Linked DNA regions of Homo sapiens. The protein of the gene in region 1 interacts with the protein of each later gene in a biochemical or structural test. Each region holds a gene or a part of one and is shown on either strand. Other genes may lie near its edges.

What was found. The genes of interacting proteins can lie anywhere in the genome.
Region 2: the proteins of ATF7IP2 (region 1) and MBD1 form a complex in vitro, tested with the Homo sapiens proteins (one study listed by BioGRID).

The regions. Positions count from the first base shown.
Region 1 is NC_000016.10:10,431,038-10,438,073, forward strand, and holds part of ATF7IP2 (activating transcription factor 7-interacting protein 2), read left to right. Parts: coding exon 1-418; intron 419-2,476; exon of another isoform or gene 2,477-2,487; coding exon 2,488-2,612; intron 2,613-7,036. UniProt on the Homo sapiens protein: Recruiter that couples transcriptional factors to general transcription apparatus and thereby modulates transcription regulation and chromatin formation. Can both act as an activator or a repressor depending on the context.
Region 2 is NC_000018.10:50,271,524-50,278,559, forward strand, and holds part of MBD1 (methyl-CpG-binding domain protein 1), read right to left. Parts: intron 5,682-7,036; coding exon 5,567-5,681; intron 5,476-5,566; coding exon 5,309-5,475; intron 5,222-5,308; coding exon 5,139-5,221; intron 4,896-5,138; coding exon 4,855-4,895; intron 4,459-4,854; coding exon 4,312-4,458; intron 4,206-4,311; coding exon 4,077-4,205; intron 3,922-4,076; coding exon of another isoform or gene 3,847-3,921; intron 3,723-3,846; coding exon 3,606-3,722; intron 3,523-3,605; coding exon 3,454-3,522; intron 2,831-3,453; coding exon 2,663-2,830; intron 2,341-2,662; coding exon 2,041-2,340; intron 1,949-2,040; coding exon 1,811-1,948; intron 1,433-1,810; coding exon 1,301-1,432; intron 1,216-1,300; coding exon 1,154-1,215; intron 18-1,153; coding exon 1-17. UniProt on the Homo sapiens protein: Transcriptional repressor that binds CpG islands in promoters where the DNA is methylated at position 5 of cytosine within CpG dinucleotides. Binding is abolished by the presence of 7-mG that is produced by DNA damage by methylmethanesulfonate (MMS).

The DNA of each region.
Region 1 (7,036 bases):
ACTTCTGAAAACGATTCTGAGCATCAGACAAATGTAACAAGATCCCTTTTTGAGCATGAGGGGGCTTGTAGTCTAAAGTCCAGTTGCTGTCCACCCAGTGTATTGAGTGGTGTTGTTCAGATGCCAGAGTCTACAGTAACCAGTACCGTGGGTGACAAGAAAACTGACCAGATGGTTTTCCATTTAGAAACAAACTCCAATTCAGAATCACATGATAAAAGGCAAAGTGACAACATTTTATGTTCAGAAGACTCAGGTTTTGTGCCTGTTGAGAAAACACCTAATTTGGTGAATTCAGTCACTTCTAACAACTGTGCTGATGACATTTTGAAAACTGATGAGTGTAGTAGAACCAGTATTTCAAATTGTGAAAGTGCAGACTCAACATGGCAGTCATCACTTGACACTAATAACAACAGTAAGTATATACTTATGCACCTTTTAGAAAAATTAAAATAGTCACTTTTCTTTAGGGTATTTTAAAGTCTCAAATATACAAACCAGTATAGACAGAAAAAAGGTAAATGATGACAATTATTTCACAGTATCTTGTTTCTGAACCATTCTTAGTGAGGTGGGGGACAGGTATCCACCATATTAAAAGGGTAATTATTGCAAAGAAGGAATCAATCACTTTTCCTTAAGTACAAAATATCAAAAGGTGGTTTATAGCAATTATTTGGTTCATTTCATATACATCTCTTCTTATTTTGAAGTTTTATTAGATTAAGAAGGAGGCTAGTTGAAAGAGTGAGTTTTAAAAATTGTTGGTAACCCTATTTCTTTTTTTTTTTTTTTTTTTTTGAGACGGAGTCTCGCTCTGTCGCTCAGGCTGGAGTGCAGTGGCGCGATCTTGGCTCACTGCAACCCCCACCTCCTGGGTTCGAGTGATTTGCCTGCCTCAGCCTCCTGAGTAGGTGGGATTACAGATGGGCACCACTACGCCCGGCTAATTTTTTTTTTTTTTTTTTTTGTATTTTTAGTAGAAACAGGGTTTCACCATGTTGGTCATGCTGGTCTCGAACTCCTGACCTCGTGATCCACCCGCCTTGGCCTCCCAAAGTGCTGGGATTACAGGCGTGAGCCACTGTGCCCAGCCAACCCTATTTCTTTCTATAGAATTGACCTGTAAATCACATGCTAAGTATGATAGATAATATATTCACACATGTGTATATGTGTGTGTAGAGAAAGAGAAGCACCCCAAATAATAAATGAAGTCCTTGGGTTATAACATCATTAAAATAGCAAAAGTGAATTTCATTTGAAGTAGGGTATTTTGTTAATGAAATAGAAAAAAACTGATTTAATGCTATAAATTTTGTGTTCTTGTCTAGACTACAGAATGGTCATTTAACAAGATGAATTTAAAATTCCTTAAAAATAATAACAGTATCATCTATTTCAAATATGTATAATAGGCTGGGTGTGGTGGCTCATGCCTGTAATTAACAGCACTTTGGGAGGCCGAGGCAGGAGGATCGCTTGAGCCATCCAGGCTAGCCTGGGCAACAGATCCAAGACCCTGTCTCTTAAAGAAAAAAAAAGAAGCCGGGCGCTGTGCCTAACGAATACAATCCCAGCACTTTGGAAGGTTGAGGCAGGTGGATCACCTGAGGTCAGGAGTTCAAGACCAGCCTGGCCAACATGGCGAAACCCCGTCTCTACTAAAAATACAAAAAAAATTAGCCAGGCGTGGTGGTGGGCACCTATTATTATTATCGCAGCTACTTGGGAGACTGAGACAGGAGAATTGCTTGAACCTGGGGGGCGGAAGTTGCACTGAGCCAAGATCGTGCCACTTCACTCTTGCCTGGGCGACAAGAGTGAGACTCCTTCTCAAAATGAAAAAAGAGTACCTTTATATAAAATAACGTAGAACCACTTAAGTCACTATAAATAGAGAATTAAATGCCATAATTTGTTAAGTTTTTGTTCGTATATGTGTATTGAGTTATTAAGTAAGATTAAAGGGACAGAGTATCTGAGACCAGAACCCTACCTAAGATAACTCATTTTTTTTCAAGGTTAGTTTGTGGGTACGTATTTATGCAATTGAATGTTCTAAAAAATGCTGCAGTGTCACATTTTAGTTTTTCCATTTGCTCAGAGGGTCTCTAAATTAGAGAATTCCTATTTCCTTCTCTTTTTTCCTCCTTGAAACAGGGTCTCACTGTGTTGCCCAGGCTAGAGTGCAGTAGTCAAGGTGCTCACTGCCACCTCAACCTCCCAGCCTCAAGCAATCCTCTCACCTCAACCTCCTGAGTAGCTGAGACTACGGGCATGCCCCACCATACCCAGCTAATTTTAAATTTTTTGTGGAGATGAATTTTCACTATGTTGCCCAGGCTGGTCTTGAACTCCTGGCCTTAAGCCACCCTCCCTCCTTAGCCTCCCAGAGTGCTGGGATTACAGACATGAGCCACCACACTGAACCTGTTTTTTTCTTTAAAATATCTTTCTTTCTAATCTTTTGATCTCCTCAAGGCCATTATCAAAAGAAGAGGATGTTTTCAGAAAACGAGGAAAATGTTAAACGCATGAAAACTTCAGAGCAAATTAATGAAAATATTTGTGTAAGTTTGGAAAGGCAAACAGCATTCCTGGAACAGGTAAAATATTGGGGCTTAAATGGAACTTTTACTTTTGATTAGTAAAACATGGTAAAAGTTAATTATCTGGTCCCCACAGTGGCATAATACAGACGACTTTCACTTGCTGCAGAGCTGGTGTGTGAAAGCCAAATTATCAGACAGACTGGGGAGAGATAACTACTTACATTACCAAAACAGCTCTGGTTTCTTGAAAATGGTCTCATGCAGAATAACCTAGGGATCATGTGTAGGTAGAGTCCTGTTGCAAAAAGAGAATGGGCTTTCAGTCAGTATTACACTCATATTTGTCTGTAAGTCAGACACTGCATGACCTTCAGCTTTATTAAAGAATCCAGTCTCTTTTGTACTAGTCATGGGGTTCTTAGATCTGCAGCTCTATCCATTTGTAGATCTCACCACAACCCAGAAGACTCAAACAACCTGGAAGTCCATTGCAAAGTCCCTGTGCATTCAGGTTTACTTGCCCTATTTTCCAAACTTAAACGGATATGGTACATTATCTGACATTTTGCTGTATAGCATCATTAAATACACTTCTTGCTTTCATTGTGGCCTCATTTTATCTCATTGTACTACAGTCTCAGTATGCGTTTGATCAATTGTTAGCTGAAGTGTATGTAGCGTGTTTCAGTTCTAGTAGAATGGTTATACTGAGGACGGGTTTTGATGACCATGTTTTCCTATTTCACTACCACTAGAATGCCACCACTACAAATCATTACCTAGTAGACTAATGTCTTCCAGCTGTAATGGACCGAAATTTCCCCGTCTAAACTACCCTGCAAACTGTTTCAGAAACAGAAACACTACCATTTTTTAAAACAGACCATTACAATTACATAGTTACATATACTATGAATGTGTATTCTTCACCTAATAATAAGGGAAAATAAAGGGAAAGAGTTACGCAGAACCAGCTTAAAGGGCGAGTCAACAGTTTTTCTGTGTCTCCCTTTTGGTTTTCTTCGAAGAAGACCAAAGGAGACAGTAAAAAATATGTAAGTGTTCTGTTGTTGGCAGGGAAAGGGTAGAAGTATGGTAAGCATGGATCCTAGCCCTAAGGACCATGTTATTCAAGAAGAAGGTTGGGGATTCCAGCTGTGTCTTGTTTCCAGTAATTAGTAGCTGAAGTGAGAAGTAAGTTTTTGTTTGTTTGTTTGTTTGAGGCAGAGTCTCACTTTGTCACCCAGACTGGAGTGCAGTGGCACAGTCTCGGCTCAGTGCTACCTCCACCTCCTGAGTAGTTGGGACTACAGGTGTGCACTAGCACACCCAGCTAACTTTTTGTGTGTATTTTTAGTAGAGACAGATTTTACCATGTTGGCCAGGCTGGTCTTGAACAGCAGTTTCAGTGATCCGCCCGCCTCGGCCTCCCAAAGTGCTGGGATTACAGGTGTGAGCCACCGCGCCCAGCCAGAAGTAACTTCTGATGTGTACATAACCATCTCTAAATAGCTAGCTTTTCCTCACTTCTTATTGCTGTCCAAACAGTTGTCTCTCTCAACCATATCTAGATGTTTACCTTGTTTGAATCTCAATGAGATAGCCCTCCCCGTCATTCTGACATTGTTCTCCCCTACTGAAGGAGTCCTGCAGTGATCATTTCTTAGCCTTTTGAGGTTTCATAAGGAGCATGGCCGGGTTAATTCCAGTTAAATTACTGAAGAGGAAGGGTTTTTCCTTTACAGTCTTAAGTTATTCACTCTACCCATTATCTCAGAAAGTTGGCACAGATTGGAGATAAGTTTGTACTTTCTCCAAACTTTAGGCCAGTTTGGCTGCCATCTCCACTTTGAAGCCAGGACTTCAATCTGATTCCCTGTTGATGGGCACATTACCATTGGTAAAAACATTTATGAGGTATTTGATGGAGGTTATTGTGTCTTCCTTTTGTATAAGGAACATTACCATTAAATTAGAACAAGTGTATAGTCTAACCAAGAGGAGTTGCCCCATGGTGGGTACTTAGTCAAAAATGATCAAATTTAAGGACCTGTCCCAATGTGAACCACCAGGAGTACTTGTTTAAATTGTGGTTTCTTGAGCTAATAGTTGAAGACTGTTGTTGTAGGCTACTGCTTTCTCAAACGTACCTGATAAAAATCATTTGTAGTAACTGTTTAGTATACAACTTTCCAGGCTCCTTTCCAAAAGATTGTGTTTGGTGGATCCAGGATGTGGCCTAGGAATTCGATTTTTAACAACCATCCCATGTGATTGTTCCTCACCAAGGATGAGGAACACTGTTAGAGAAACACTGTACAAAACAGTGTTTCCACGTTCAAAAGATTTAGATTTGTTTCTCCAAGATTCATGTGGGTATGAGCTTCACATATTGAACCCAGCCAGTGAACTAACAAACATGTGATGATCCATAGAAACCACACGAGTAATAGGTAATGGTCATCGGTAAAAATAATAGTATTGGCCGGGCGTGGTGGCTCACGCTTATAATCCTAGCACTTTGGGAGGCCAAGTTGGGTGGATCACTTGAGGTCAGGAGTTCAAGACCAGCCTGGCCAACAATGGTGAAACCCTGTCTCGGCTAAAAATATAAAAATTAGCTGGACATGGTGGAGCATGCCTGTAGGCTCAGCTACTAGGAAGGCTGAGGCAGGAAAATCACTTAAACATGGTGGGTGAAGATTGCAGTGAGCCGGGATCACGCTGCTGCACTGCAGCCTGAGCAACAGAGCGAGACTCTGTCCCAAAAAATATAATAGTATGTGTTACTGAGCCTTTTTTTTTTAAATAATACATTTTGAGCACATTCATTTGCTCACATGTTTAAAAGTTATGAAAGTAAAAATGACAATCATGTCTAATGTAGAGAAACCATGGAAGAAATGTTAGTGAAGCATTAGAGAAGAGATCAAGTAGACAATGTTGAAGAGTGAGAACACTTGGAAACAGGAAGGAAGAGCCTTGGGAATGATCAAAATTAAAGAATATAATCATCCAGGTGATATCAATATAAGAGTTTAACGTAGGAACTATGTGTTCTATTTTGAGCATCATGAAGCAAGATACTGGAGGAAAAAATATATAAATATTATAAATACCTTAAATGTATCATAACAGGTCATATTAACAAAGACTACTTACACTGTGGTGAAAATTGCTTACCAGGAGGATACACACTGAGTGAAAAACTACAGTGAATGTTTCTGAATGTATGGCTCAGCAGAGCTGCTCATATCAGTGGGCATTGAAATTAATTATTCTCCCTGAAAATGGGCCAGTCTGTTTTCAAAAAAAAAAGATAAGTTCATTAATTTTTCATATTACAGCTACTACGATTTGTTAGAATGGCATGCATTATGGCAGATAACATTGGTAACTACATAATTGTCCTTGGCTATTTTTCCCATTTTTTTTTTTTTTTTGAGACGGAGTCTCGCTCAATCACCCAGGCCTGGAGTACAGTGGTGTGATCTCGGCTCACTGCAACCTCCACCTCCTGGATTCAAGCAGTTCTCCTGTCTCAGCCTCCAGAGTAGCTGAGACTATGTTGCCTGCCACCATGCCTGGCTAATTTTTGTATTTTTAGTAGAGTCGGGGTTTCACCATGTTGGTCAGGCTGGTCTTCAACTCCTGACCTCGTGATCTGCCCACCTCGGCCTCCCAGAGTGTTGGGATTACAGGCGTGAGCCACTGCACCCGGCTGGCTTCTTTCAGTTTTAGCACCGTGCTCTAACTAGCTGAGCTAACCAACTGATTGATATTATTTCAATTTTAACAATAAGAAAGCCACCCCCTAAAACAATTATGGAAGTAATGGTGATTATCTTACATATTTACTTCTTTCATATCAATTCAGTGTTTTTTATTTTATGGTGCTCTTTTGCGTATTACCTTATGTTCCTATAAAAATCCTTTGAGTATCACTTGTTCAACATTTATTATATTATCTACTCATTTGTCAACAAGGAAAATGAAGCTCAAAAATAATGTGACTGACTAAAGGGTCAAGTAGCTTATTAGTGGTAATGTCAAGTCTCACACTTGTGTAATTTGTTCTATATCTACTACAGACCAACCAACCATTTTCATCAGGTGCTGGTTTTCAGATAAGTAGAGTTCCTTTATATGGAATACTAACTAGGAGTTATGGATATTAAAAAATATAAATGGCATATAGTCTTTTAATTGTTTCTATAATGTATAGTATGGAATTCAAGTGGAACTATAGGAAACTAAAGTTAGCATTATGAGAATAAATTTAATTTCTAACATGTCCAGTATACTTAAATATTGGATGTGTTCTGAGTTTAATATTCAAGTTTTGAAAAACTTACTGGTATAGTTATATAAACATACAAATATAAATAAACTATATTTAATTGGTTACAGTAAATCTGGAAAAGAGCAAGGCTTTTTAAGTAGAAAGTAAAATTGCTTTTAAATTTGAAACGTAGGGT
Region 2 (7,036 bases), on another chromosome or scaffold:
TTTTAAGGTCTTTGGACCTAGGGAAAAGGGAGCAGGTCTGTATGTTGAATGAGGTTTGCTATGTGCGCAATGGAGCATTACAAAACCATTTCCTACTATTCTGTGTCCTCCATCCACTTCCCCTTAATTATCCTTTATCTTTTTTTATATCTTCTAAAAACTACCATTATAGACAGCTTGTACATAGTCAGATTATAAGCTCCCTGAAGGTAGGTATCCTGTGTCTCCTGAAGGGTAAGCTTTGCAGGGCTCATTGTCCTCAATGCTGTGCACCCAACAGGAACTCAATCAATACTTCTGTAATTGGCCAAGTATAGATGAAAGGGTTTCTAGCCTGGTGGGCTGGTTTGTAGGAGCAAAGGAATCCAAGTGCTTAGGCCAATAGTTTACATCGCCAGTGTCTGGGGCTCTATGCAGGGTCTGTCAATATTCTGCAGGAGCCAGCACTCCTCTGTCCTCCCAACCACCCTAGTCCTTACAGGCATCTACCCTTTGTTCTATGCCAGGACTACAGGGACAGTTCTGCAAGGCATCTGAAGTTAATAACCTCAATAGGCTCAGGAAAGGCTCAAGAGATCCAGCCCAAGCCCTTCCACAGAGGCCGCTCCAGGAAGTGCAGGGCAACCAGAGATCACACAACTACGTGTGAACCCAGCTCACAAAGCCAGCTCGGAACCCAGATCTCCTGCCCATACCACTGCCCAGGCAAGCCCAGCACCATTTCTCTGGTACACATTGCTCAATGTCAGGCAACAGCCCACCCAGAGGTCTCCTGGAGACTCTAAAGGCCTTCAAGACCCAAATGATTATTCTCTGAATAAGAATTTATATATTAAAGCTGACCCCTATAGAAATTCCTTAGGAAAATAGGGACCAGACTCCCTATCTTTTTCTTTCAAATCTCATGATAGAGTACCAAGTCTTTCCCCTACCCCCAAAGGAGAGTCCTAACCTGGAATGCTATTGGGCTGGATCTCAGGAGAAATCTCTAGGGTCCTACACACACGCCCCTCATTAATTGTGACCAGCATAGTGGGTATGGGCCTTTACCTCCCACCACACCATGCCAAACTGCCGGCTATACTTTCAAAACTCAGGGCCCACATCTGGCCAACACCCACTCCTTCCCCACCCCTCACTGTGTGGGGCACACCTTGGCAACCAGACTGCTGTATCTCGGAAGCGGGTTCCACCCAGGCTGAAAATCTCCGTGATCTAGAGAAGAATTAACACCATAGGTCAATGTGGTTGTTGGGGCTACAGCAGGGTCAGGGCAGGGTGGGGCATCCCCAGCACTGACCACGGGTGTGCCAGCCCCTCCTGCCTCTTCCTCTGGGGCCAATTTGGAGGCAGAATCATCCTTGTTCTCCTCCTTGTCCTCCTCTGGGTCAGGTGGCTCTTGCTTCACAGAAGGCAGGCCTGGGTCTACTGCCTGGGAGAAGTAGGAAACAGGCAACCATTAGAAGGGCAGAGTTCACCTGAGGAAAGTCTCTATCAGCCAACCCCTCACTGTGCTGACAAATCCTACTTCCATCACATTTCAACACAGAAAGTCCATCTCTCTGCCTACAAAGCTTTCCCATTCCCATTCCTCACTGACCTCCGTTTTTCTGTTAGCTGGATAGCAAAGCGGGCAAAGCTAGTTGCCTGTGGGAGGTAGGGTGTCTGTTAGACAGGCGGGGTAATTCTGCAGAAACGTCGCAATCAGCACATCTATTGCTCTGCTCAAGAGAACCATCATGGCTCATCATCACTCTGCTTACAGACCACTCCGCTACGGCACCAACAGAACATCCATCACTGCCCCCACCTTGCTAGGGCAGCCAGGCACCAATACGGGAGAAGTCAGGACAGCTGTGCCTGGTGTCCACTCGTCCTGGGTATCCGCCTTCTCTTGCTTCACCTGGGGTAAGGCCACAACCCAACTCAGGCCAGAGCACTGGGCCTCCTGCGTGAGGGAGGATTGCAGCAGACTTGGTCTCAGCTCCCTGGCATGCAGCTGGGTGAGGCTGGGAAGGCAGGACAGGGTGGGGCCCTCACCTGCAACAGGGCTTCTGTGGAAGCTGCAACAGGGCCCGGCACCTGCACAGGACTGCTTGCGCCTTCCCGTAAAAACACAAGGTCAGTGCCAGGCGGGGGCAGCACAAAGCCACCACCTGCTTCCTGCTTCGTTGGAGCCTGGGTATGGTCTGGTTGGGCTGTGCGTGTAGCCAAGGTGGGCTTCAAGGTAGGGCCAAGATGGTGCCGTCGGGCAGAGCTGGGCCTCTTTCGACGACGGTAAGGTGGGGGCGATCCTGCCCCATCCTCAGACTCTGACCAGACACTGGGCAGCAGCCGCTTCTATGGGGAAAGATAGGGTGCTATGGCTACCTGGTGTCCTGACCAATCACATCCACCCTGCCCGGCTCCACATGCCTGCTAATCTCCCATCAGTCCCAGCACGGAATCTGCTTACATATGAGCCCTTCATCACTGAGCCTGCTAGTCTCCTATTAGCAACACCAATGCCACCTAGACTCATTAAGCCAAGAACAATGTCTGTTAATCCTCAACCAAAGCTACTGCCCCACCCACCCACCTACCAAGCCTGCCCACCACTTCCAGGCACTGGGGCGCCTGGCCCAACCTATCCCGTCCACCTGACCCTTCCTGCCCCACCCACCATGGCAAACTGCAGGCATTGGCGCCAACGACACTTCTGGCGCTTCTGGTTGCTGCCCCCGAATTTGGGCTTGTCGCAGCAGAAGTCGCAGCGGCCACAGTCCATCCGCCGTAGGCAGGCTGCACAGGCCCCGCACTTGCGGTTCTGCCGGCGGTTCGTGTAGGGCTGCTGGGGTGGGGGGAATGGGTGGTGCTGTCAACTAGGACTAGGAGAGGCCATCCTCAACGCCTATTCCAGTGCTGGTCCTGGTGCTCCTCTAGCCCCATAAGACGGAGCTACTTGCATACTAGTCTCAGCCTCCTGACTCCCCACTAGTCACTCCTCAGCATTCGCTAGTTCAACATTGGCCACTATCACTGTGCCAGCTGGCCCTCGATACCATTAGGACTGTGGCTGCTCCACTACAGTATCCACTGCTGTATTTCCTAGGCCACCACTAGCTACCAAGAAAATGTCTCTGACCCCCATTTCCAGCAACATTTTGATAACTCTCTATTAGCTCCCATCACTGTGCCTACTCTGTCGCTCATCCTAGGTGAACCCCAGTCACTATGCTAGCTGCTCCTCTGTCAATCCCCACATCAGCTACCAGAGTGTTGGTATATGTGACATGAAGCACTCTCATGCACCTGCTGACCCCGTATTAGTCCTCCATTATCTACTCATCCCATCCTAGGACCCATTATTGTGCCTTGCTGTTCCCCAATAGGCTCATTCCAGCATCTGCTTCTTTGAAGTTAACCAAGCGTCCTGAGATTCTAGGCTTATCCAGGTAGGGTGGGGCCACTCACTAGCTCGTCCTCGTCTACACAGTAATAGATGAACTCGGCAGGTGGCGAGGGGGCCAGGGCTCTGGGGTGCTGTAGAGGCAAATGGGGTGGGGTCAGGGCAGGTACTGGGTAAGGTCAGGGTTGTGCCTTCCCTCCACCCACTGGGGCCTCACCGGCTCTGTGGGCTCTGGGGACTGTGATGGGGGTGGTGGAGGCAGTGGCTGGGCTCCGGGGCGCCGCCTGGCAGCCATCTTGGAGTCACAGCCTCCCTTGCGGCGGGCATGTTTACCCTGGGAAAGATCAGAAAGGGTGGTTTCAGCTTGGTGGCACCAGGCAGACACAGAAACTCCCCACACCCTAAGTGCAGAAAGCATGCATGGGACAGGCAGACAGAGGGTGGCGTGAGGCACTCACAGTTGGGGGAGCCACAGCCAGGGGAGTGCGTCGCTGACATCTCTGATGACGGCGACGCAGGCGGTGAGCAAGGTGCTGGCAGACAGAGGCAGGTAGGCGGGGCCAGAAAGGCGAGCATAGGGTTAGGCAGAAAAGAAAGACATGAGGTAGGCAAGGCCAGGTTGAAAGGAAGCAGAGGCAGCGACGATTTTAACAGCAGAATGAGCTCTGCTCCCTCCAGCCCAACTCACCCGTAGGCAACGTCGCTGGACACATTTCCACTGGCGCCTGAGACCAGGGCGGGGAGGGCGAAGGCAGATGGGGCAATGGCCACAATCCTCTTGGGTCTGACAGCCCCGGCATACTCCACACCCTCGGCTCTGTTGGCGGGGGGCAGGTGGGAGCAGAGGCATGAAGCATGGGGCCAAGCCCATGGGGGCCAGGGGCCGAGGTGAGCCTTGGGCTCTTTCCACTTGCCCAACTCACCCTTTCCACAATCCGGAGGCAGCGTCTCCGTTCACACTTGCAGAACAGCCCCGATGCCACATCATGGGGCAGCTGCAGGAGGCAGGTGGAGCAGGCCCCACAGTCTTCTGTTACCTGGCAGGCTGCACACTCCCCACAGCCCACACGCTGCCAGGAATGGTAGGGACGAGATCACGGGCCTGCTCCAGAAGCACTGGTCCTCCCATGTCTACTGACCCTACATCAGCTGGCATCACCATGAATTTTAGTCCCCCATTAGCCTCATCACCGTATCTGAGAAGGTCTGGTTAGTCACCATCACTGAGGCCATTAGTATGTCTACTGGTCCCCTGTTCACTTCATCACTGTGTCTACTGATGCACTAATGGTAATGGGGATTAATTACCCCATTAATTCCCATTATTGTGTCTGCTGACCTATGGAGAGCACCCTATAAAATGACTCTTCATCCTGTGGACCCATCATCATCCCTTCAGACTCTACCAGCTCCATCACATCCTGCTCCCACTGCAGAGTTGTGAAGAGGAAGCAGGTTGTGCTTACCTTAAACATTCTCTGTTCCCGGTTGAAGGCAATTCTCTGTGCTGTGGGGAGGAAGAGGGAAGAAGAAAAGTGGAAAGGAAGCAACAGACATCTGACTTCACTCACTGCCTGTGCCCTGACTTCCACTATTCAACCTCTACCTATGCCTGCTATCTCCAATATCCAACCTCCAACCATGCCAGTAGCCTCTGTCCTGACATCCACATTCAAACCCCAGCCTAGCATGACACTGGACCTGCTCCAGCTCCTATCTCCCGATGCCCCATCCTCTGGAGGCCACTCACCTCGACAGTCTTTGCACAACGTTTTGAGCCGCTGCCTTTGGGTGCCATCCCCTGAGAAGCTGATTCCACAGTTCTCACAGCACCTGGGATGGGAAAGGCAGGTGTGGGGCTCCAAGAGCACCCCCAATCACAACCCTCACCCATCTGGCTCACCTTAGACCAACACTCACCCAGGAGCAGGGAATGAAGCTGGGGCTGTGTCAGTGTCAGCCTTGGTCTCATCCCTCGGGGCCTCCTTCCTGACCTCACCACTCTGGGGTCCAACCTGACGTTTCCGAGTCTTGGCTGGCCTTGAAGGCTTCTTTCGCTTCTTGCTGGCAACCGCCACGGGATGGGCCTGGAAAGTAAGGGAAGGAGGAATATGGGTCAGTGGTTGGGTGTTGGGTGGCACATCCACCCCTACCTAGGTATCTCATGTTGTGAAGTACCTTGGGGGCTGGATAGCACAAGATGCCTTGTTTGAAGTCGAAGAGGGTGAGATCACACGCAGGGCCCAGGTATCGAGTCAGCTCAACTTTGCTTCGGATCCTGTCTCCTGTGGGGCTAGGGATGGGCCATGATGGGTTAGCACCCAGGTGGAGCCAATGCCATTTCACTCATACAACCTTTTGACAGGGCTGGCAGGATATAGGAGGCAGCCTGGAATTGGCTTGTGAGCCCTGCCCAGCCCCCACCTCAACTAACCTTGAAAACATAAAAAAATTAATATAAATACCAACACATATAGAAACATTAGAAACAATATAAATGTAAACAGATGAACATATTTACAACATATAATACTAGTAATACTGGAACTATTTCATGTAAGTAAAAATAAACACAAATAGGAACACAAATATATTATATTTGTGTTATATATATATAACACAAATATAACATATAAATGTTAGCATTATGTACCAAGTATATATCAAGTAAAGAAAACACAAATATGTTTTAAAAACATATAAACAAATGCAACTACATACAAATTAAAGTATAAGTAATTGATTTTGGGACCCCCATGGGTTTCTTGCATTTTTGTATGCCCTGCAAGAGAGACAACGATTGTCCTTTTTGATAAACTATCTTTCCAAGGATGTTTGTAAAGCAAACAACCTTGGAAGATAAGAGATAGGGTCTCCTTCCATAGGAGGAAGGGAAAGTATACTTTTTCCAAAGGGAAAGCATACTTACTGTCTTAATATTATTTAAAAAAAACCTGATTCTCTAAGCTCACGGTTCTTTTCCTATAATAATACAACCCTCTTCACGTCATGCTGTAGGAATTGGGATTCAGAAACTGGCACAAAAATAGTAATACAGTAATTCCCCCTCTCGTGCAGGGGATACATCCCAAGTTCCCCAGTGGATGCCTGAAACCGTGGATAGTACCAAACCCTAATGTAATATGTACTGTGTTTTTTCTATCTGATAACTGAGATGGTTACTGTGTGACTAACAGGCAGGTTGTGTCTAGAACATGGATATGGATACGGATATGGACAAAGAGATGATTCACCTCTTGAGCAGGACTGAGCGGGATGGTGTGAGATTTCATCACGCTACTCAAAACGGCACACAATTCAAAACTAATGAATTGTTTATTTCTAAAATTTTCCATTTAATATTTTTGGATGGTGGTTGACTGTAGGTAACTAAAGCTGTGGAAAATGAAATTGCAGATAAGGGGGAGACTACTGTATTCTGGATCCTGCAACTGTTGTAATAAACTGTCTTTGATCTGTAACCCAGGAGTCTTACCCCTCCTACCAGCATCTACAAAATTCTGACAAATTCACTATTATCTTGTCCTAAGAATGAAATCTCAGGTTCTTTATAGTTCTTGACAACTGCACTTTTAAGTTTTGAAAGTTTTATACAAGTACATAAATATGTGAATAAATTATAACTAA